3 separate regions of the Homo sapiens genome follow, and all the other regions are linked to region 2. Evidence: fine-mapped expression QTL. A gene starts in region 2. Each other region holds a variant in brackets. All regions are shown on one strand. Distances are between the middles of the regions. Region 1 has its middle 20 kb from the start of SPATA3-AS1. Region 2 holds the start of GPR55 (G protein-coupled receptor 55). Region 3 overlaps GCSIR (GPR55 cis regulatory suppressor of immune response RNA).

Region 1 (8,225 bases), 51 kb after region 2:
ACAATAGCCAAAAGGTAGGGGCAGCCCAAGTGCTTCTTCCATCAATGGATGAATGGATAACACATTGTGTTTATCCATTGATAAATTGCTGATATAGTTTTGGATCTGTGTCCCACTCAAATCTCCTGTCTAGTTATAACCCCCAGTGTTGGAGGCGGGACCTGGTGGGAGGTGATTGGATCATGAAGGCATAGTTCTCATAAATGGTTCAGCACTATCCCTCCTTGGTACTGTGTAATGAGTGAGTTCTCACAAGATCTGGTTGTTTAAAAAGTGTGCCGCACCTCCCCCCTCTCTCTCTTGCTCCTACTCCGGCCACGTGGTAAGTGCTGGCTTCCACTTTGTCTTCTGCAATGATTGTAAGTTTCCTGAGGCCTCCTGGAAGCCAAGCAGAAGGCCAGCATCATGTTTCCTGTACAGCCTGTGGAATCGAGAGCCAATGAAACCTCTTTTCTTTATAAATTACCCAGTCTCAGGTATGTCTTTTTTTATTCTTTTTTCCTTTTTTTGAGACAGGGTCTTGCTCTCTTGTCCAGGCTGCAGAACAGTGGCATGACACAGCTCACTGCAGCCTCGACCTCTCAGGCTCAATCGATCCACCCACCTCAGCCACCTGAGTAGTTGGGACTACAGGTATGGGCCGCTATGCCCAGCTAATTTTTTTTTCTCTTTTTGAGACGGAGTGAGCTCTGTCGCCCAGGCTGGAGTGCAGTGGCGCAATCTGGGCTTGCTGCAATCTCCGCATCCCGGGTTCACGCCATTCTGCTGCCTCAGCCTTCCGAGTAACTGGGACTACAGGCGCCCACCACCACGCCCAGCTAATTTTTTGTATTTTTAGTAGAGACGGGGTTTCACCATGTTAGCCAGGATGGTCTCAATCCTCTGACCTCGTGACCCACCTGCCTTGGCCTCCCAAAGTGCTAGGACTACAGGCATGAGCCACTGCGCCCGGCTTATGCCCAGCTAATTTTTGTATTTTTTGTAGAGATGGGGTTTCACCATGTTGCACAGGCTGGTCTTGAGCTCCTGGACTTAAGTGATCCTCTCACCTTGGCCTCCCAAAGTGCTGGAATTACAGGCATGCACCATCGTGACTGGCCCAGTATCAGGTATTTCTTTATAGCAATGCAAGAACAGACGAATACACACGCAGTGGAGTATTACTCAACATTACAAAGGAAGGAGATTCTGACCCATGCTCTCATATGGATGAAACTTGGAGACATTATACTAAGTCAAATAAGTCAATCACAAAAAGAAAAATACCGTATGATTCCACTTAAAGAGGTACCTAGGGTAGTCAAATGCATAGACATAGAAATTAGGATTATGGTTGGTTGCCAGGAGCTGGGGGAAGTGGGGGATGGGGAGTTGGTGGTGGTTGTACTAGGTGAACATAACTTAATTCCACTGAACTCAACACTTACAGTGGTTACAATGGTGAATTCTAGGTTATGTCTATTTTACCACAATTTTTAAAAATAATTTAAAATCCATGATAAATAGAGTGACCATATAGTTTATTGTCTAAACTGGGACACTTTGGGCAATGAAAGTGGATGCTTTTAATAACTACACCTCGATCCTAGGGGTTAAAGAGACTGCCCTAGGTAGCCTGGGGGTTCCCCAAAATAGTCACTTCTCCACTTACTTCAGTTGAAAGTGTCTTCTTCGCCTGGTAAATATTCAGTACAGTAGCTATGGAAGAAATGTCACCATGAACGGTGCCAAGATATAATTATTCCTGTTCTGGAATGTCAAACTTTAACATTTTGGCCACAATATTCTCTTTTGATCACATTGTCATAATAATTTTGGGATAAAGTGGATGTATCCAGAAGTCCATTCTATGTTGGGACACTTGGCATTGCTCCATGCTTGTGTGGGGGTGGCACCTTTACCTCCCTGCCTCAATCCTCCCCTTCCCTCCCACTGTCCCCTTCCACCTATCCTTTCAGGTAGGTCTTACACAAATGGCCCCTCCTCTGTCCTGTCTTTCCTGATCCACCCTGTGGCATTTCTCCACTTCCAAACTTCTCTGGTGCTTTTACTTGGCGTCAGGTGACATGCGATAAGACCTGGATTAATTAGTTAATGTTAATAACATCTGCTTGACTGCCAATCCTGAAAAATACCGTAATTAACATCATCAACCAGCCATAGGGAAACCACCTTGGACCTCCCCGTGTAAACTACTTTGGGCAGTGCCTTGGGTTTTTCAAGAGTTTGTCAGGCACTTGAGGTTGAGGCTCGAAGAAAGAATATTATTTGATTCTTAGCCATGGTGGGAACCGACATTTATCTAAGTGTTTTTCATAGACAGGAAGTGGTAATTCTCACCCTCCCTGATCTGGGCTCTGACTCACTGGGGTGCCCCAGCCTCTGGGCCTGGGCTCACTAGTGGTAGCCAGCTGACCTGAGCATCAGAGTAAGATGCGTGCCTGAAAAATTCCCCTGGTGGGGCCGGTCATGAAAAGTGCCGTTCTCCTCATTCATGTGGTTTTGTCAGGATGCCCGGATTCCGCAGGCCCGGGCCAGTTATTTTGAGCACACAAGTCACTTTAAAAGACCCCTAAAGGTCACTGGTCCCAAGGATTATTTCACCCCCTCACCACAGTTAATGTCGTCTCCCCACCTCTGTTTTTCTGTATTCCCATAACACATTCTGAGTGTGGCTATGTGATGTAAAGAGCTGTTTTCATGCAAATGTTCAGGGTAACATCATGCATAGTGTCTTAGTTCATCTCCTGCCGCTATACCAAAATACCACAGACTGGGTAATTTACAAGGCACAGACGTTTATTTGGCTCATGGTTCTGGAGCTGGGAAGTCCAAGAGCGTGGTGCTGGTATCTAGTGAGGGCCATCCCATGGCGGAAGGCATCACGTCGTGAGAGAGAACACACGCGAGAGGAAGGAAAGAGGGGCAGAATTCCCTGATTTTATATCTAAGTCACTCCTGTGACAGCTAATCCAGTACCCCAATAATGGCCTGAATCCACTCATGAGAGCTGTGTTCCCATGACCTAATCACCACTTAAACGTGCCACTTCTCAACATTGTTGCACTGGCAATTAAGTTTCCAACACATGAACTTTGGGGGACACATTCAAACCACAGCACTTAGAATATAACAGGATTGCCCCCCTACAGCCATGAGTCCCTTGGATCACCAAGTTAATGTAACAATAACAAAGTCTAATATGATTTACAGGAAATTGGAAGCTTTAAGTAGCCTCGTGAAGCCAAAGGGCAGCATTAGAGCATATCTTTTGACACCCGAAGCTTGTGTCAAAAAGGGTATTAACAGTTGACCGCCTCACACCCACGAGGATGACTATAATTTTTTAAATGGAAAATAACCATTGGCAAGGATGTGGGAAAACCGGAACCCTCCTACTTTGCTTGTGAAAAATGTAAAACGGTGCAGCTGATGTGGAAATCAATTTGTTGGTTCATCAAAAATTTAAACATGGGGCCAGGTGCAGTGGCTCACGCCTGTAATCCCAGCACTTTGGGAGGCCAAGGCGGGCAGACCACGAGGTCAGGAGTTCGAGACCAGCCTGGCCAACATTATGAAACCCCGACTCTACTAAAAATACAAAAATTAGCCTGGCGTAGTGGCACATGCCTGTAGTCCCAGCTACTCGGGAGGCTGAGGCAGAAGAATCGCTTGAACCCGGGAGGCAGAGGTTGCAGCGAGCTGAGGTCATGCCACTGCACTCCAGCCTGGGTGACAGAGTGAGACTTTATCTCAAAAAAAAAAAAAAATTTAAACATGGAGTTTCCATATGACCCAGAAGTCCCATTTCTAGTATGTACCCAGAAGAATAGAAACACAGGTTAAAACAGTGACCAAAATGTAAAAACAGCCCAGCTGTCCATAAGCTGTAAATGGATAAACTAGACTGTAGTACATTCATAAAACGGAATATTTCATCATAAAAAGAAGGCACTACCAACGCATGCTGCAGCTTGGATGAACCTAAGTGAAAGAAGCCAGACACAAAAGGACACATATTGTATGATTTCATATGTATGAAATATCCAGGATAGGCAAATCCATTCGAGACGGAAAGTAGGTTGGTGGTTGCCAGGGCCTGGGGGAGGGGGAAATGGGGCGTGGTTTTTTAATGTGTATGAGGTTTCCTTTGGGGGTGATAAAAATGTTATGGTTGAATGAGACGGTGAACGTACTGAAGCCACTGGATGTACACTTTAAAATGGTTAAAGTGGGCCGGGTGCGGTGGCTCTGCCTGAAATCCCAGCACTCTGGGAGGCCGAGGCAGGTGGGTCGTCTGAGGTCAGGAGTTCAAGACCAGCCTGGCCAAAACGGCGAAACCCCACTTCTACCAACAATACAAAAATTACCTGGGCATGGTGATGCATGCCTGTAATCCAAGCTACTCGGGAGGTTGAGGCAGGAGAATCGCTTGAACTCGGGAGGCCAAGGTTACAGTGAGCCGAGATTGCGCCACTGCACTCCAGCCTGACAGAGCAAGACTCTGTCTCAAAAAAAAAAGAAAGAAAGAAAGAAAGAAAGAAAAATAAATGGTTAAAGTGGCAAATTTTATGCTATATAAATTGTGCCTTAATTTTTGAAAAGTTTACACTTTGAGTGAGGCAAGTGTTTGGCACAGAAACCACTTCTCTCCTGGCAACACTTCATAATCCTCCAGTGGCAAAGCCCCTCTCCGCAAACCCATCTCTCAAGCCACGCACGTCCCAAGAGACACAAGAACACTAGAGGCCAGACAGGAGGGGACAGCCTGCATTGTGTCCTTCACCCTTATTTGGACCTTCGCCCTATTGCCTTCTCACACTCTCAGAATCCAGAGGTCATGCCAGTTCAAAAGGAGCCGGTATCATGGAGACTGGGGCTCAGAAACCAATACC[C/G]CCAAATATGGCTCTGTGACATGCTGAACTGAAGAAGAAGCCACAAGATTTCTCTGACCTCCCCCAACCCCCGCCTCTGTCTCAGTCTGTCTCTCTCAAAGCACAGAATGAGGTTGTTCTCTGAAGTTCCCTTATCTGCCTAAAGCCCAGACTCACTAAAGAAGAAAACAATTACTCCTGGTCCCTTCCTAAATTTTCATGAACTGAACTCATATCCAGGAAGAAAGACTGACATCTATCAACACAGCTAGGCAGACTTTTGTCACAAACCGTTGTATACTCTGCAGGCACAACAGACTTTGTCCCAGGCCATTGTATGTTCTTCAAGCCCATTGAATTTCTCTAAAAATCACTTAAACTAAAATCATCCACACTGCCCCATCTCCCTTTCCCCTAAGAAGAAGGGTATATAAGCATATGTACCCCGCTGGGTTATCGAATAATCACTCTGCTACAGTTCCCCATGCTTGACACGTTAAAATAAATTCATAGTGTTTTATCTAATTAACCTGCCTTTTGTGAGTTGATTTTTGTGCAAACTTTCTGAGAGCGAAGGGGAAGTTTTCACGGGTATTGCATGGTCTTCTGAAATAACTAGCATTAATATAGATTAGACAAAAACCAACCCTGAACAGGTTCCATGTGACAGCAGAATGTTCTGAAATGGGAAGGAATGAATGTGAGCATGAGAGGTCTGTGTGAACGGATAATGAGGTTCGGGGTAAGATGCAAAGGAGGATATATATTATACCATCTTTCATATGGAAAGAAGAGAAAATGAATACGTGTATGTGTTATTTTTGTGAAAAGAAATACAGTATTAAACAGACACTAATGGAAGGCATTCACCGTGGAGGTGGGAAGGAATGGGGTAGAAGGGATAGGAACGGCAGTGAGGCTTCTCTTGTATATCTCATATCATTGTCACTTTTTATTTTTTTATTTTTTCAGAGACGGGGTCTCGCTCTCTCACCAAGGTTGGAGTGCAGTGGCTCACTGGAGCCTCAGCCTCCTGGGCTCAAGCAATCCTCCTGCTTCAGCCTCCCAGTGGCACACGCCACCGTACCCAGCTATTTATTTATTTATTTATTCATTTATTTATTTATTTATTTATTTTTGTAGAAATGAGGTCTTCCTACGTTGCCCAGGCTGGTCTCAAACTCCTGGGCTCAAGCAATTCTCCCACCTCGGCCTCCCAAAGTGCTGGGATTACAGGTGTGAGCCACTATTCTCAACCCATTTTTACTTTTTAACTACATAAATGTTTCACGTATTTTAAAAATAAAATTAAATGTTAAAAAGGTGGGATAAAGAATACCCTACAATAGAATGCAAAAGAAGGAAATCAAACTGATAACGCCTCAAACTGATACCACAACCACACAGAGCAAACACTCTGATTGTGGAGAAGGATCTGTTCTAAGAACAGAAGAACTATAGAAAAACTTCTATTTAGTATGTTTACTGTTAGCAGTAATATTGGTCTTGTAATTCTGAAACTCTTTTGTGCATGTATAGTGGAAAGCAAATAAGCAAATATATATTTTACTGACGGGGAAAAAAGATACTAGTAGTCAGTAAAGAAGTGAAAGAAAAACTGTAATGTTAAATTTGAGTAGGAAATATATCAGTTTGAACTTGTAATTTTTTTTAAAATGAGTTTTCTAATCCTGTCCACTGAATGACAGCCGAGTAGCAATGATCGCATATATCACCAGGTTCTTTCTTTCTCTATACCATTCACCACTAAAGGCACCAGGGCTCGTTAGAGAAATGGTAGATTCTAGGTCAGGGGTGAAAATGTACAACGTGAGCATGGAATCTCTTGTCACACCAGAAAGCAAAACAGTTTTGGAAGATAAATGTGATCATGTCAAAAGGATTCAGGAGCTGACCTGAGGGCTCCCACTGCTCAAATGTGGGATGATTTGAACATCAAAATGAATAACTGTAGTTTCAATTATAGCATTTTTAAAACTCCACGAACCCACAGTGATTAATGTTTTTAATATAGTGGGATTTGGAAATTCTTACAGAAAAAAAGGCCAGCTAGTAAATGTAGCAGGAATAAAAGAATGAAAAACTACCATTTTCCAACCTCCAATGTAATGCTTCCTTCAGGTAAGCATCACCAAGAGTTGCCAAAACTGTTTGGTGACTTGGATATTCAGTTAATCCTGTGACCATGTGAAGATTCTAAAAATTACTTACAAAAGGGGAAGCAGAGTGAGGATTAGTGATCAAACTCAGAATGACCAAGAGTGGCTGACATTATGTACTCCAGATGTGATGCCTGACATTATTTACTCCAGATGTGATACCTGACATTATTTACTCCAGATGTGATACTGACATTATGTACTCCAGATGTGATACCTGACATTATTTACTCCAGATGTGATACCTGACATTACTTACTGCAGAAGTGATACTGACATTATTTACTCCAGATGTGATGCCTGACATTATTAACTCCAGATGTGATGCCTGACATTATTTACTCCAGTTGCGATACTGACATTATTTACTCCCGATGTGATACCTGATGTTATTTACTCCAGATGTGATACTGATGTTTTTTACTGCAGATGTGATACCTGACATTATTTACTCCAGATGTGATACTGACATTATTTACTCCAGATGTGATGCCTGACATTATTTACTCCAGATGTGATAACTGACATTATTTACTGCAGATGTGATACTGACATTATTTATTCCAGATGTAATGCCTGACATTATTTACTCCAGGTGTGATACTGACATTATTTACTGCAGATGTGATACCTGACATTATTTACTCCAGATGTGATATTGACATTATTTACTCCAGATGTGATACTGACATTATTTACTCCAGATGTGATACCTGACATTATTTACTCCAGATGTGATGCCTGACATTATTTACTCCAGATGTGATACTGACATTATTTACTCCAGATGTGATACTGACATTATTTACTCCAGATGTGATACTGACATTATTTACTCCAGATGTGATACCTGACATTATTTACTCCAGATGTGATAACTGACATTATTTACTCCAGATGTGATAACTGACATTATTTACTCCAGATGTGATAACTGACATTATTTACTCCAGATGTGATATTGACATTATTTACTCCAGATGTGATGCCTGACATTATTTACTCCAGATGTGATGCCTGACATTATTTACTCCAGATGTGATGCCTGACATTATTTACTCCAGATGTGATAACTGACATTATTTACTCCAGATATGATACTGACATTATTTACTCCAGATGTGATACTGACATTATTTACTCCAGATGTGATACTGACATTATTTACTCC
Region 2 (8,225 bases):
AAAAGAAATTTTAAAAAATGGAAATATAATGTAGCTGGAGCCCTTAGTGCCCCTCCTGTGGAATACCCATGATCAAAATAGACAGAAATTAGAGCTCTGAACAACCCAACTAATAAGGTAGACTAGCAGATCAGGGAGAAGTACATCATAAATCAAGGGTCTATGCTCTCTTTAGAAGAATAGAAGTGTCTTTCACAAAATTTACCCCATTCCCGAGCACAGGCAATGGCAATTTTACACTCCTCATTCTCGGACCACAAAGAAAATAGCTGTTTGTTGGTCCTGACCACTTAGCTGCAGTGCCATATTAAAAATACAGGCATTTCTATGCATTCTTTTACACAGGCTCTTCACGTGTGAGTCAGAGACAAAATCAGACGTACATTGCTGAAATATTGTAAAGAAACAATATTTATACACAAAACACAAACGCAGTCACCACTTTAAGGAAAGTGGGAATTCCTAAGTGTTCTTTTAAACATGAAAGGGAGAAACGAGGTGAGCCAAGGCTACACTCAAAGATCCTGGAAGTGGAATGGGAGTGACCATGGCCAATGCACAGCTCTGATCACCCTAGGACCCGAGGCTGTCTGTCTGCAGGGGCTGAACTCGGAGGGGCTAGGGAACCACAGCATGGGAGAAGATGCAGAAAGGCCTAGAGATGCTCCTAATCCCTAGAGGGAAAGGCACAAGGTCATCCATCCTCCAGTGATCGTGACGTGTTCCACCATAAGACTTCACAGGGTCAGAAAAGGAATGGGTTCCAGGTGCTGCAGAAAGCAAACCTATCTCGCAGCCAGAGTGTCTGAGAGTAGACAAAGCAAAGCAGCCTCGTCATGTGGAGGGCTCTCTGTCACCAGAGGTATGCAAGCAAAGGCAGGGCTATGTGCTTATCCAGGGTGCTGTAGAGGGAATTCATGCACACAGCCGTGTCTTACTGAAGGGTGTTTTTGTTTGTTGATTTTTAACCCTGAAGTAGAATCTCCTTTCAATATAAGGCTGTTTTCCAATGTTTGGTGAAAAGGAGAGAAAGTATGTGACGTGTGGAAAGGGACTGGGGTGGAGCACAGAGGCCTTGCTTCTCCTCCTGGCTCCCTCTGCTTGGGGGTTTCCGTCTCATTTCTTCCATCCTCAAGGCCCTGCTCAGCCCCGAGCCCGGAGCCCTGGCCTCAATGTGCTGATTTGTTTGTTTGTTTAAGTTAGCATCTTGCTTTGTCACCCAGGCTGGAGTGCAGTGGCACAATTGAGGTTCACTGCAACCTCAACTTCCCAGGCTCAAGCAATCCTCCCACCTCAGCCCTCCGAGTAGCTGGGACTACAGGCATGCATCACCATACCCAATTAATTTTTTATTTTTTGATTTTAAAATTTATTTTTATTTATTTATTTATTTTTGAGATGGAGTTTCACTCTTGTTGCCCAGGCTGGGGTGCAATGGTGTGATCTCGGCTCACTGCAACCTCTGCCTCCCAGGTTCAAGCAATTCTCCTGCCTCAGGCTCCTGAGTAGATGGGATTACAGGCATGTGCCACCACGCCCGGCTAATTTTGTATTTTTCGTAGATACAGCGTTTCTCTATGTTGGTCAGGCTGGTCTCGAACTCCCGACCTCAGGTGATCCACCTGCCTCCCAAAGTGCTGGGATTACGGGTGTGAGCCATCGCTCCTGGCCTAATTTTTTATTTTTTGTAGAGACAAGGTCTTACTGTGTTGCCCAGGCTGGCCTCAAATTTCTGGGATCGAGCAATCCTCTTGCCTCTGCCTCCCAAACTGCTGGGATTACAGGCGTGAGCCCGAGCACCCGGCCTGTGCTGGTTCTTAATTGCTGACTCTACACATTCTGCAGCTGGGATTCCCGCAACTGCCAGTGGTCCATGGTACCCTCATCCGCCCACACCCTCAAGGATCCAGTGTCCCACTTGCGGCAGCCCTGTGGCTTTGCCTGCACAGCTGAGACCTCGAAACCCAGCTATGTGGCTCCACACCAGACCTACCTTTCTTCCCTCTGTGGCCTGGACTTTCCAGAGAACACAAGCAACAAGAAGATCACAACCCTAAGGAGGGTTGCAACTGAGAAGGTGGCCCTTCCTGCAGCTGCCAGGCTGTTATCTGCACAGAGCATTGCAGCGTGAGCCACCTCAGAGATGGCAGGGCCAGAGCCTAAAAAAGCAGCATTGGCACAGCCGCAGGGATGGATTTGAGGAGCCCTGGAATACTCCCCCAAAAATGCCGCAGTTAGAATACACAGCGTATCCACCAGTAACACCATAGTGTGAATAAAGTCATCCGCCTGTGCCTGAGCTGGGCTTCTGGGGGCCACGATAGAAGAAGGAACAGGACACAGAGGGGACAGAGCACATGACCACAATCTCCCCAATGCCTGAATGTTGCTGGAGCTTGGGCTGGGGGGTTGGAGTGGGGCTGGGAGAGGGGAGGGGCCGGCTTGGGGACGTGAAAGGTGGCCAGCAGTGTGCTCAGTGATCTACGATGGGAACTCAGGACACTCCTAGGAGATTGCCCTAATTATGCCCATTTTACAGATAAGGACAGTAAGGCTTAGAGATGTTAAAGATTCTACCCAAGGTCAAAAAGGCCGTGAGGGACCAGCTGGAACTCATGTTCTGAGTCTCTCCTCCTCGCTCACCCTGGCCCCCATCAGCATCACAAGCAAGAGCATCTGGGATCCAGGAGTTGCCAAGCCCCCTCCTCACTTCTTTGCATGCTCATGCTCCTCTTTCTCCTTGGACTCTCTCCTCCACTGCTAAAAATCCCACCTCTTCCTTGAAATGCCCACTTCCCAGGTTCACCCACATCATCTGATGTGGTTTTCCCAGTGCAGTCCTGAGTGGGTGCCTTGAAAAGTCCTCTGTGTATCCCAGGGGGAGCGTGTCCCTGCTGTCCTCCAGCAACCCCAGGACCAGGACCATGTCCCTTTCACCTTTATCACCGAGCCTCACATACAGTTTGTCGTTGGGAAGGTCTTATTGCATGAAAGAGGGGGTGAAGAAATGACGGAACAAATGGCCAGGTCTGCTGCAGCTCCACAGTGACTGGTGCTCCCTTTACAGCTGGGACAGCCGCTCAGAACCAAAGGCAAACCTTGCCTTCCACAGAGCTGTGGGCGGCACTTTGCCCTGCCCTGTCCTCTCATCCCCACTGCCTCGGGCAGCACAAAGCCCAGGTGAAGCCAGGCCAGCCAGACATGTCCTGACTTTGTGTTCTCACTCTCAGGGAAGAATCTAGAATGTTCAGGGTTCTAAGTGCTGCTGTGTCTTCCCGCCCAGCCTCTCCAAGAGACACTTGGCTAGGGTTAGAGAACAATGCAGCTATAATGTAGGATAGCAACCAGGGCTTTCCTCTCCATCATTTACTGCCCTTGAGCGCCCCGTGAGGAAGAAACCGTGTATTGCCTCATGCCCCAGAGAGGTAAACGGAGGCTAGAGAAATTACGCAGCTGGTGAGTGGGTGAGCCTGGGCTCCCAGGCTCCTTCTGGTCCCCAGTAAGCACTTGCTCAGGGCTGCAGGATGATCCCTGAGAGTGTGTCATCTCGGGCGCTTGGTGGTTTCCCAACAAGATTCTGGGGAATGGGCGGCGGGCTTGGTGGAGGGCGGTGGCACGTGAGCTACATGCCCCGGGAAGGCTCCCAGGCTGCCTATGGGGAGGTTTCCCGACCCGACATGATGCTGCAACCCTGAGTCAGATCAGGAGGAAGTTGAGGGTTCGTAGAAAAATGTCACTCGTAATCGGGGACAAACCAGGTCTGCCTGCCGCTGCTGCTGTCACGGAGGCTGCCTGGAGGCTGCCGCTGCCCTGACACCTGGGACTGCTCGCTGAGTTGGGACAGGTGTGCACAAAGCCCAGGCCCACACAAGCCCCACTGATCTTAGGAGAGTTACCTGCAGTCCACAAGAGCAAGGTCAGGTTGGAGGCTCCGTGCCTTAGTTTCTCTAAATGGCCCAGAGGCTGTTACCTGTTGGTGGTCCGGTGCAGCTGAGAGGGCTGAGAGATGTCATTTCTCCTCCAGGCCTGGCTGTCAGCCTGTTCTGGGGAGAGTCACTTCCCCTCTCTGGGTCTCGACTTCCTTGTGAGTGAAATAAAGGGGTGGGACCAGATGCTCTTTGAGCCGCTCCAGTGTCACCCTGTCTGGCTTAGGGGCTCTTGCTCTGGGGTCTACAGAGAGGCTGTGTGGAACTAGAGTGTGGACATGGGGAGCAGTTTCCAGGAGGAGGGTCTACACTCTCCCGCCCTCTTGGAAGATCTGCACGCCCCCCTCCCGCAGCTCCAAAAAACAAAACAAAAAACCAAAAAGCCAAAAATCACACTGCATGTGTCAAGCCCTGGGAAGCCTCTGGAGGAGGAAGCCTCCTACGCACCCCAGACACCCTAACAGGGGCACCACACAGGGGCAGCCATTCTCAGCACCTGCCAAGGGCCGTCGTGGCTTCCAGCACTTTGGGGGTTTAGGATTTGAAACTGCTGCCCACAGAAAGGAAAGGAAGGTGGTGCTATTTAGTACTTGCAGGTTAGGACTTGCGTGCCTAGCGTCGGAGGAGACCTCAGCCACTGCATGTGTGTCTGCAAGAATGGTCAGTGGGGCCCCACAGGTTCCCCAGCCTCGGCTTCTCTGTCCCAGGCCTGCACAGAGATTTGGGGCAGCCTTGGGCCTGTGGCTTCCTAGGGCCCTGCAAGCAGAGATTTCCCTGGCATCTCCCACCTTCAGGGCTGGGAGGGCTGAGACTCACCCGTGGGCCTGGGTGGCTCTTAGCTGGGAGCCCTCATAGATTCCAGCCCATCAGGAAAGTCTGGGCTGAAACTACCCCGGCAGATGCAGCTCTCATGCCCTGGAGGTGCTGGGAGGCCCTGTCGGAGGACCAAACACAAGCAATTTTTAAAAGCTATGCGTGCTGGGACTTTCAGGTGTCTACAGGAATAGAAACTACTCCTGGGTTTTTTGGATGATTCATCCAACACATGGGTCCCCTCTGTAAATAACACCTTGCAAGTCACTGCAGGGGAACCACCTGGCCCTCTGGAGCTGGGTCTTCCCACTGTCTGGTGAAGAGGTTGATGGAACCATGACAACTTTTAAGCTCTCACCTGGGCTTGTGCGATGGGCAGTGCCAAGTCCACTGCCTGCTCCAGGCCGTGGAGCCCCAAGCTGGCCTGGGTGCCAAGACAGGGCACAGGGCAGTCCTGCCCCCAGCGAGGCCCCCCTACTGGGCCACCAGCCCAATCTAAGCCAAAGGCTGGCTACTGGGCAAGGGGGGGCAGCCAGGCCCGCACCCTGGGTGCGGGAGGAGGCCAGGAGCCTGCTGGGACAGTAGCAGGGAGGAAACACACCGGTGTCTGGCACCCACCTCCATACCCAGAGCCTGCAATGTGAGGCCCCAGGAAGGCATCCACACTGAGTGGCCTGCAGGGAGCAGTGTCTCTGCTCAGCCCCTTCTCAAAGGGAGCCTTGTCTACTCCCATTCTGGCTACCTTCTTTTTTTTTTTTTTTTTTTTTTTTTGATACAGAGTCTCGCTCTGTTGCCCAGGCTGCAGTGCAGTGGCACTATCTTGGCTCACTGCAACCTCCACTTCCCGGGTTCAAGTGATTCTCCTGCCTCAGCCTCCTGAGTAGCTGGGATTACAGGCTTGTGCCACCAGGCCCGACTAACTTTTTTCGTATTTTTAGTAGAGACAAGGTTTCACCATGTTGGTCAGGCTGGTCTTGAACTCCCGACCTCGTGATTCACCCACCTCGGCCTCCCAAAGTGTTAGGATTACAGATGTGAGCCACCGCTCCCGGCCCTGGCTACCTTCTTTTAAGAAATGAATATTTCTACTTTATTGCTGTTGCAATATTAAAATTTTTAAATTTTTAAATTTTTGAAAACATGCACATGATTCAAATACATATGTAAACACATATAGGAAAATATCTGTCCCACTCCTAAATCCAGCTCTCACCTACCCCCCAGGGCACCACTGTTAAGTTTCTTCCAGAGTTTCTGTGCCCGCCCGTGTACACCTGAGCTCTTATTTTCTCCCTCTTTTGACACAGAAGCTAGAGACCACACGAGCTGCTCTGCAGTAGAAGGCATTGTCCACCTCCCTCTCCTGTGGGTATCCCTTGGATACCTTGGGGGATATCCAAGGTATATGGGGGATCCCTTGCCAAGATACGTCTCCAGAGAGACTCAAAGGTTTGAGCTCCTAAGAGCAAGGCTAGGCAGGGACTCGCCCAAGGCCCCGTCCTAAGGCTCAGGCCTGTCCCTCGAGCTTTTCGCCTCCCCTTGCCACAGGCCTGGGGAGTCATAAATAGGAAGACCTTTCTCAGAAAATTTCCCTTAAGCCTCCTGAAACTTCTCCCCCTAGTCCTGCCCACCCTCTCACCATCCAGAATCACTTGGAGGTTTTGGGAGCCTGGGCAGGTCCCTGCCTGTCTTCCAGGCTGGGAGCCCCGAGTTGGGGGGTTTGGGGGCACACACCTTCGACTTCACCAGTGGAGCAGCTTCGGAGCTTCAGGAACCAGCTTCTTCTAGGGCAAGGAACAAGTGAATCTGACTGTGTTTATCAAAGAGCGGGTCCAGGATAGCTGGGCGCTCACCACATCCTCCCCTGACGCTGGTGAAATTCGCTCCTTCAGCAGCCAGAGGCCTGGCCCTGCCCTCGTGGGGCATCCTTTCCCTCCAAGGGGGGAAACCTGCCCACCAGGGGGTTTGCAGGGTGACCACTTGGCCCAGAGCTGTGCAAGAAGTGCTCCCAAGCCTGCCCCAGAGAGCTGGTCAGGGAACAGGGGCAGGGGCAAGAGCTGAACCCTAAGAGACACGGGGAGGGAGGAGGATGCTGGAGGAGGGCAGCCCAGGTGCAGGCACAGGCAGGAGGGGCACGGGGTTGGTGAGGGCCCGGGCACCCTCTGCACCAGGGTAAGGGGGGAATGGCAGGAGCCGAGGCTGGAAGCTGGCCAGGCAGGAACCAGGGGCACGGGCCGCCCCGGGGTCCCAGGGAACACACGCTTGGCACAGGGGCAGCATGTGACAGACCCACTGGGGCAGCAGGGGTTGGGTTGGGATGAGGGCACCAGCAGCAACAAGAAGGAATGAGGGCAGGAGTGGGGGCGTCAGAGTGTCTGAAAGAAGGATCCAGGGCATCTGAGGCAGCCGGACTCTGAAGATAGCCTCAGCAGGTCTCTGGCCGCCACTCCCCACAAAGCAGCTCTGTCAGCTTGGGCTGGTTGCCTAACCTCTCTGAGCCCATTTCCCCAGCCGCAAATTGGAGTTACACATCCATTCAATCAAAAAATGTTTGTGGATCATCTCCTAGGGACCAGGCAGTGGTGGTGAAGACAGATGACAGTACCTGTCTCAGAAAACGTTGTTTTAGGAGTCGGCATGGTAACAGGGGTAAGTGTACCCAGGAAGTGCCTGGTACTCAAGCAGTGACTGAGGCCCCCATTCCTCGTTGATTTATGCCTGCCTTTGTCTCCCCTGCTGGGTCTATTTGAAGGAAAAGAAAAAAAAAGGAGGAACATTGATAATGAGACCCTCATGATCCAAGGAAAAGGGGTCCTAAAAATCAGAGGAAGCCCCAACAGAGAGAGGAAGGCAGGGGAACTCAGGAAGAAGAGGCAAAGAGAGGAAGATGAGCAGCACCTGCCCCCACCCTCTGCTCCAACCCTCCAGGTGCGGCCTGGAGACAGACTCAAAGGGTTGAGCTCCAAGAGCTGGGCTAGGCAGGGACTTGCCCCAGGCCCCATCCTATGGCTCCCCATCTGGCCTCTCCCCTCCCATTCTGCCGGGAACACTTCTGTTCCCAAGCCCCACTTCTTTATTTTATTTTATTTTTTGTAAAAATAGAGATGGGGTTTTGCCATGTTGCCCAGGCTGGTCTCGGACTCCTGGACTCAAGCGATCCCCCACCTCGGCCTCCCAAAGTGCTGGGATTACTGGTGTGAACCACTGCATCCGGCCACCAAGCCCCACTTAAACATTGAGCCCGGATGACTCCCCTGCACGGTCAGCTGGGTGCTATACCACACGAAGCCCGTTCCTGGAGCCTTTGCCAAGTCCCTGAGGACTGACACCCTGCCCCCTAGGTGCTCACAAAGACAGGAAGGTGCGTGCCCCCAAGCCCCCCAACTCGGGGCCCTGATAATCCCCCTTAGCAATTGAAGATGTCTCCTTGAAAGTGGGCCCATGGTGGCTGAGGTCAGTGATGCTTAATGTCAAGGCAGAAGGGAG
Region 3 (8,225 bases), 24 kb before region 2:
GGAGAAGCCCCCTTTTATTTATTTCCCTTCTGAGACAGGGTCTCGCTCTGTCACCCAGGTTGGGGTCCAGTGGCAGGATCACAGCTCATTGCAGCCTCAACCTCCCGAGCTCATGCAATCCTCCCACCTCAGCCCCCCAAGTAGCTGGGATGACAAGCACACCACCACACCCAGTTATTATTATTATTATTATTATTTTTAATAGAGACAAGGTCTCACTACATTGCCCAGGCTGGTCTCAAACTCCTGAGCTCACGCGATCCTACCACCTTGGCCTCCCAAAGTGCTTACAGGTGTGAGTCACTGCACCCGGCCGGGAAGCCTCTTTTTAAAGTAAAGGACATAGACTGCACAGATTCAGCCCAGACTCCATCTATTTATCTATTTAATTGAGCTCCTACAATTTATTGAGCTTCTACTATGTGTCTGACACTCTGCTAAGTTCTGAAGATCCAGAGATGAACAAGACCTAGTCCCTTCCCTGAAGAGTTTATAGTTCAGAGCAGGCATTAGGGAAATTTTTTGCAAAGGGCTAGATTACAAGTGTTTTCAGTTTTACAAACCATACAGTCTCTGTCATAACTACCGTGGTCTGCTGTAGCTCCAAAGCAGCCACTGCAGACAGTGTGAATGGACATGACTGTGTCCCCACAAGACTTGAAGGGCAGCAGCCTCCTGGCACAGAGGTGGAGAAAAACACACAAAGCCTCAGAGCACCTGCCAGGCCCCTGCTGAAGGTAGCAGCTCCAGGCGGCCCCATAGGCGGCATCTCACATGGCCCCATCTCCTCCGCCGTGGTTGACTGGACCAGGGAGGAGCACGTGATTCACAGGTAGCCCATCCTCAGGCTGCCAGTGATGGACACGGGTGGAGAGGCCAGCAGAGATAGTGGCCGCCAGCTGGGACAACGGTGGTAGGAGACAGAGACCGAAAGGCAGGAAGGATAGAGCAGAGCCAATAGACTTCCCTGGACCCTCAAGCCCTTCCAAACCTGAGCCGTGTTCCAGGCCCCATGGGGACCTCCCGGGAGGTCTTGCTGTGAGCCTGTCCTGGGACCCGGGCAGGCTTGCACGGAGCTGAGAGTCCTGTCTTCTTTATTTCCATGTACATCCTTCAACAAAACAGCTTTTGCTTCCTTCTTTCTTGTTTAACAATTCAGTAATTTTTAGAAAATTTATAAAGTTGTGCAACCATGCAACCATCACTGTCACCCAGCTTCCATAATAAACCTGAATGAGCTCCCTGCACTCAAGAGACCCTCACTCACCCCAGTTCCTTGTGGAAAGTTAGGGTGCCATGGGATCACAGAGGAGGGACCCCCAGCTGGGGCCAGGGGCTCCGAGAAGTCTTCCCAGAGAGACCCAAGGACAGTCAGAGAATTCCTGGGATGATGTGGGGAAGGGGGATCCCCATCACCTCTTTGACCTTTAGTGGGCAGCAAGGGCCAACATCTGACCAGGTGCCTCGTGCAGCAGGCATGGTGTAGACAGAACACTTTGTCAGATGCCGATGAATCAAGCAGCTTTCCTTTTCCTCCATACCCTCCATGCCCTCCTGTGGCAGCCTCAGTCCACCCCAGCGTCCTTAGACAGGGCCTTGCAGGCCAGGGCACACTGCAGGAAAGGGAAGAATCTGCACGTGGCTCCCTGGGGCCGTCGATGATGGGCTTTGCTGCCTGCACCACCCGAGTTTTCATCCAAGAAAACACCCTAACCTGGTATTTCCCAAGGAATTCAAGTGAAATTGTCAAAAGGGCTTACATCCCTGTTTTAAGGCTGTGGAAGAGGTCTGGCCATACAATCTCCCTCTCCCTTTCCCCTTCACCCCCAGGAAAGAGAGAATCTCCAAGCACCCATACCCAGGGCCTCTGTCTTCCCACTCCCCTCTCCCATCTCCCCATAAGGAGCCTTTCTCTTGCTGAAGCAGGAAACTTCATTTTGCTAACAGGAAGCTTCTTTGTTCCCTGCAAGAGAAACCAGCTCCAGCTAATTCAAGCAAAAGAAGGCTCTTCGCAGGGATGTGGAGCAGCTCACAGTTGCAAAGAGGTTGCTGAGCAACGTGCACTGCCTGGAGGTGACTGCAGCGGCCCTGGGCTTCCCTGGGCTCCCCCGCTGGCAGACAGAATCTGACAGCACGGTTTGGTGCAAGGGTCCCTGGCCTTGGTCCTTTGGATCACTCAGTGACAGGGAACAGGAGCCAGTCTGCTTCCCTATCCCATTAGAAGGATCTGGATTTGCTCCATTCACCCAGACCTGGGTTTCACCAGGAACTAGGGGTGTACATCATCTATGCCCAAACCCAGGGCACCCCTGAGTATACGGCATTTCCCAGTGGGCCATTAAGAAGATGCGCATACAGAAGAGATTGTTTTTCCAAGTGAGAAGATCCAGCTTGAATATACAAACTATTAGGGTTGTGCATGTAATTGTTTAAATGTCTCCTGTAGGAGTTAATGCATTTGGTTTTCAAGACATCTTTTAATTCCACAGAAGGTAACTCCTTTCCACTTTCACATTTCATGGAACATTTTTTCATCTCAACCTGTCACCAGCATCTTGAGTGTCTGTCTCCTCATCACCCCTGAGCCACGGTTTGAGTCACCGGTGACTTTCAGGGTACGTCACCTCCGTCTCCTCTCAGTTACAGAGATTCAGCACTTTTTAAATCCCCACATGATGCTATCACTGGAAATTGTATCTAAGTTGCAAGTGCCCCTTCTCATAATATTGAGGGACTTAAAGTTGTTAGTTGAACCTTAAGAGAAATATGAGAATCTTCTTAACTGGTGATTGGGGCACACCAGGAACCCCGGCATTATCATCAATCCTACCAGAGGGCTTCTGCACACAGCCAGGTATAAGGGGCTTGGAGCAAGCCCCTAGCTGTCTGTTATTATTAGCTGGTGCTATGGGGCCAGGACCCAGGGTCTTTGAGCCTGCGGTTGCTTCCTGGTCTGAAGCGAGGGCTGGGGCAGTGGTGATGACTGCAGCTGTCAATCACCAGGTATTTATCAGCTCTGCTCTGCACCCAGCCTGTGCCAGGCACACAGGGTGGACGGGAGCCACGAGACCTTGCTGTGAGAGGTGATTAAGAAGGAGCATTTCTACTTAGGACACCGGTGCAAGGGAGGACCAAATGAGGTGTAACAGACAAGGAGAGAATAAGCCTGTTCTCGACCAGGTGCAATTGAGTAGTGGAAGCCAGTGGGTGGGCTTGTGACAGCCCCTACTGGGGAGCAGATGGGTCGCCCCTTGATGGCTCAGGATCTTTGAAGAGCCCTGAGAGGATTTTGGAGTGGGTACGGTGGGCCAGGACACAGAGACCCAGAGTGGGTGTTAGCATGGGGTGCCATGCAAAAATCACTTACAAGGGCATCAGAGAGCTGGTGCTGCTCATGCCCCCATGGGCCTCAGCTTCCACGTCTGCACAATAGTTCCCTTCAAGCCAAGGTCTTGTTACAGACCTGTTTCTAGCCCCAACTCCTCCAGCTTTATGGGGTCACCCCCCCTTTTTAAATCTCCAAGCAGAAGGGCTTGTGATTTTATCCCACATTCAGTGGGAACCCTAGCATCTCCCATCATAGTCGTAGAAACTGCCAAATTCTCCTCTGAGCCCTGAGTCCTACAGGAACTGTCCTCCACGTGTATCTGAGCCCACAGGGAGCACATTCCCCCTTTCTTTCTCCAATAAAGGACAGCTGACTCCAGGGAGAACTGGTGGGAGACTTCCCTGAAGGCCAGGGGTGACGGAGATGGATGGTAATGCACAGCAACCAGAAACACCCCCCAGCCCCATCCTGCCAAGGGAGTGCTCCTTCCCTTATGCCACCCCCTCACCTGGTTTGGTTGGTTTCAGATGCAGTGCAGCCTTGGGAAGTCGGTGCTGGACCCCACCTGTGCAGCCTGTTTGCCGCAATTTCAGAGTCACTGGAGATACAGTATTTATAAAAGCGTTTCTCTCTTGGTTTGAACTACAGCTTTGCTCCCAGTTTCAATGTATATAGTCCTTGGAGGAACAACCCTGGCCAAGAAGTTATACCAGAGGCAACTGACCCCTAAGAGCAGGTGATGAAGAGCAGGAGGAGAGAGATGGCTGCAAGCTGGAAGAAGGGTGGTAGTTTGCAGTGGTGGGGACAGGGGATACCACAGGAGGGGATTAGGAATTGGGAAAAGGACTCACAATCGTGTCAAAGGCAGAATCTGCTGGGAGTGGTTGGGCCTTGGAGATGCTTGATGGGGTGACAATTAGGTGACCCCAAGTACTTTCATGAGAACTTTTATAACATAAGGTTAGGGAGCCGGATGCAGTGGTTCACACCCGTAGTCCCAGCATTTTGGGAGGCTGAGGCGGGAGGATCACTCGAGCCCAGGAGTTTGAGCCCAGCCTGGCCAACAGGGTGAAACTCCATCTCTACTAAAAATACAAAATATTAGTCAGGCATGGTGGCAGGTGCCTGTAGTCCCAGCTACTCGGGAGGCTGAGGCAGGAGAATCACTTGAACCCGAGAGGCGGAGGTTGCCATGAGCTGAGATAGCACCACTGCTCTCCAACCTGGGCAACAGAGCAAGACTCTGTCTCAAAAACAAAACAAAAACAAAAACAAAACCATAAAGGTAGGTAAGGTCATCCTCTGATAGTGGAACTTACTACATAGATACATGCCAGGAGGCAGTAATAGTAATAAAATATCATATAAGACGATGATGATGGTGAAACTGGTATGACCTACTTCACCAACTTAGATTACAAAATGGTCAAATTTCTTTTATTGCTTAATTTATTTTTCCCTATGGGTCTTTTAGGCAGAAGACTTGCCCCCAAATTACTCAAAGACCCCAGGGACCTCCTTTGCTTCCACACCTGAGGGAGGAGAGCCAGGGTTCCATCAGCCCCTGCTGCTGTTTCTCCAAGCTGTCACAAGGTG[A/T]CACTGTTGCAGCTTGGTGTCTCAAGGAGGGACGCTGCTGCCCCAGACGCTGGGATGCCCTTGGTGGTTGAGGTTCAGGCTTAAGACTCTTCTTAGTTATCATTTCACACTCGGCCATCCCTTCCCAAAGCATAGCTCCTGGGGCAGGGCGGCTGGGTTTGAAGGGGTGTCCAGTATCAGCCACGTTCCATGCTGGCCAGAACAGTGTTATCAGTTGAGATCCCCCTTAACACAAGGTGATTTATTTTGGGGGCCTCATTGCTTGCCCCTGCCACTGATTCTTGGATTGCCCTACAACTCCTAGACAGGTATCCCTGACTTTGCATCTCTGAGATTGGGGACTGGGATATGGGTGTCTTTGCTTTCAGAGGGCCCTGGGACTCTGCTTCCTATAGTGCGGCATACAAAGAGGGCCGGCCAGCTTCTCTAAGCCCCACAAACAAAGGTCCTGGGTCAGCCCAAACCCCAAGAGGAAGAGGATGGGACCCTGGGGGCTCACATTTGCATAACAAAGCGGGCACACAAATGATCCTTCACCAGAGGAAGAACACCTGTGCCCAGGTTCCTTATGTCTCTGCCTAACCCAAAAGTTCTCAACCTGGGGATCAGGAGTAGAATTCACGGGTGTCATGAACTTGCTGAGGGAAAACATTACATGCTATTTTCACTAATCACTAACTGAAGGTAGCATTTCCTTCCATTACGCACGTAGACATCACACCACAGTACGATAGATGGTGTGGTTCCTGGGACTTGTCACCAATAGACATCACAGATACTCTCATATCCCACTACAGTTGCTGCAGATAATTCAAAATAACTTCTCAGTTCATCATAAATTCAAAATTATGATAATCATTAAACCCATCACTAGATCTTGTTATCCAGTGCCTAAAGAAACATATATTGCTACGTTGGTGACTACATTTCCATATATCTGGTTTCCTCTCTAATTCCATGCATTTTTACTTGATGCATGTGAAACTGCCCTTCTGGGGAAGGTCCACAGGCTTCCTCCTGACTGCAGGAGGATCGATGGCACGAGATGAATTAAGACCCCATGGCCTGCTGGGCATTGTGGCTCACGCCTGTAATCCCAACATTTTGCGAGGCCAAGGCAGGTAGATTGCTTCAGCCCAGGAGTTCAAGACCAGCCCAGGCAACATGGCGAGACCCTGTCTTTACAAAAAATACAAAAATTAGCCAGGCATTGTGGTGTGCACCTACAGTCCCAGCTACTCAGGGGGTTGAAGCAGGAGGATCCCTTGAGCCCAGGAGGTTGAGGCTGCAGTGAGCTGTGATCATGCCACTGTACTCAGCCTGGCAGACAGGAGTGAGACTTTGTCTTAAAACGAAACAAACAAACGGAAAAACAAAACAAAAGACCTAGTGCCAGAGCTTTCATCATTCTCAGAGGCTGCCTAAAGCCCTACCTGAAAAGGATGCTAGGTTTGTGAGTCCAAAGGTCAGCCGGGGAAGGTGCAGGGCTACTGTGGTTCCCAAGAAGAGCCCAGACAAGCATTCTGCTGAAGGAGCCTCAGACATGAAGGTGCGAGAGCATTTAACGCGGAGGGCTTGGGGCCTGCAGGAGTGAGCTGCGTGCCCAAGTGTCATACGGATGCCTCTGTTGAAAGGCCCAGTCCTCGATGGGCACCATGGCTGTGACCAGTGTGGACTGAAACCCAGGGTTCTCTGCAAACAGTGCAGTCATCAAGGGATGCCCCAGCTAGGACCCGCGCAGGATCTTGGGGGCGGAAGGGATCCAGTGAAATGGAGCTGGAGCATCCTCCAGTAAACCTTGGTGAATTAGGGCAAGTTACGTTCAATTTGAAGAAATAAGAGAAGTGTGACTTCTACTCCAGGTTAGCCTAGAAGCCGTTCCTGTGAATTGAAGTGTCCCCCCCAAAATTCACATGCTGGAGCCCTAACCCCCAGTGTAACAGTATTTGGAGACATGGCTTTTAGGTAAAATGAAGTAAGGGTGGGGCCTGATCCTGTAGGATTAATGTCCTTAGCAGAAGAGACACCAGAGAGTTTGTTTCCTCTCTCTCTGCCTCTTAGGACACAGTGAGGAGGTGGTCATCAGCAACCCAGGAAGAGTGGCCTCACCAGAAACTGACCCTGCCAGACCTCGATCTGAGACTTCCAGCCTCCAGAACTGTGGGACATAAATTCCTGTTGTTTAAGGTACTCAGTCTGCAGTGTTTTATTATGGCAGCTCAGGTAGACTGACAACATACTTGCCATATATGGGTGTTTTTTGCAGTGTAAAGTCCCAGGGAAGAAATATCAATAGCTGACAGATCTCTTAACCATCAATTTCATCCCACTTTGTTCATATAATTGAAATAGTCCTGTCTTTGGGGTCATATACCCTTTAATAATACTCAGAGAATAATGACTTTGCTCCTCACACTCCATTAATATGGGAAGTCCTATTTTCTGTGGGTTCCCCCCTCCAGGCATCTCTGGGTCTCATGCTCTGCTGTAAAGCTCATACTGATTCCCCTTGGTGAAAGCTGTGCCCTGGCTGCGACTTGAAGTTGGTACTGAAGATTTAGGAAACTGAAGGAAATCCACAGCAAAGAGGCTGGTATCTACTGCCGAAGGGGGCCACACCCAGTGCCCAGTGCCCAGTGCCCAGCAACGCGTGGCCCATCTTGGGGAGGGAGAGGTCTCTCCACCTACCTAATGCTGTCTGGAGACCCATCCCCACAAACATGTCCCACCCTGAGCCGGTCCTCTGGAGCCCTCCTTAACCACTCCAGGCCCACTGGCCTCAAGGCTTCTCCACTGCCCTCAGGGAAACCCCTCCACCCACTCCCAGAACTGTGCTTTGGCTGGGGGCTCACACAGCGATCACTGGGTCATTGGACATCAGTTTTCCCCAGTCAGGGTCATTCCGTCTGAAATGCACTAGGCACTGACTTGGGGAATCGGCTGTTTGGAAAATCTGGGTTTAGCCAGATCTAGTCAACTCTGGCACAACTTTCCTAAACTCTGTGTGGCCTCCACCGGCAAGCCGCTCCGAGACACCACTTGAACGAGAAACGCACACGTGTGTATGCATTCTCATCTGCACTACGCACAGCCCAAAGCCACCTACTGAGAAGAGAGGCTTTTTGGAGACATCTGTCTGCACCCTAAGCAGCCTTTGCATAACTGTGCTGGCCCCGGTGGAGATGCAGGTCCCCCCTGCAGGCAGCGTCTTTGTTACACTCACTCAGGCGTGGGCCTCCGGAATAAAGCTGTCATCTGAAGCCTCAAAAGTGAACCAGAGCCGCGTCTGGCTTTGAAGTGA

The links.
Region 1: its variant is fine-mapped to the expression of GPR55 in whole blood (TOPMed, PIP above 0.99).
Region 3: its variant is fine-mapped to the expression of GPR55 in whole blood (TOPMed, PIP above 0.99).

The regions. Positions count from the first base shown.
Region 1 is chr2:230,972,010-230,980,234 of GRCh38, forward strand. No RefSeq gene overlaps it. Among named protein-coding and RNA genes, the nearest start is that of SPATA3-AS1, 20 kb to the right of the region's middle. RefSeq lists enhancers at 2,112-2,161, 2,282-2,421, 3,836-3,955, 5,060-5,109. The variant C/G (reference allele first, on the strand shown) is at 4,896.
Region 2 is chr2:230,921,198-230,929,422 of GRCh38, forward strand. It overlaps GPR55 (G protein-coupled receptor 55), which reads right to left and starts at 4,045. Exons shown (of 2, transcript NM_005683.4): 1 at 3,971-4,045. RefSeq lists enhancers at 3,390-4,178, 3,742-3,861, 3,982-4,031, 4,852-5,081 and silencers at 5,302-5,481, 8,210-8,225.
Region 3 is chr2:230,897,404-230,905,628 of GRCh38, forward strand. GCSIR (GPR55 cis regulatory suppressor of immune response RNA) reads left to right here. Exons shown (of 4, transcript NR_038238.1): 4 at 6,986-7,114. Among named protein-coding and RNA genes, the nearest start is that of GCSIR, 15 kb to the left of the region's middle. RefSeq lists silencers at 4,925-5,004, 5,075-5,134. The variant A/T (reference allele first, on the strand shown) is at 4,925.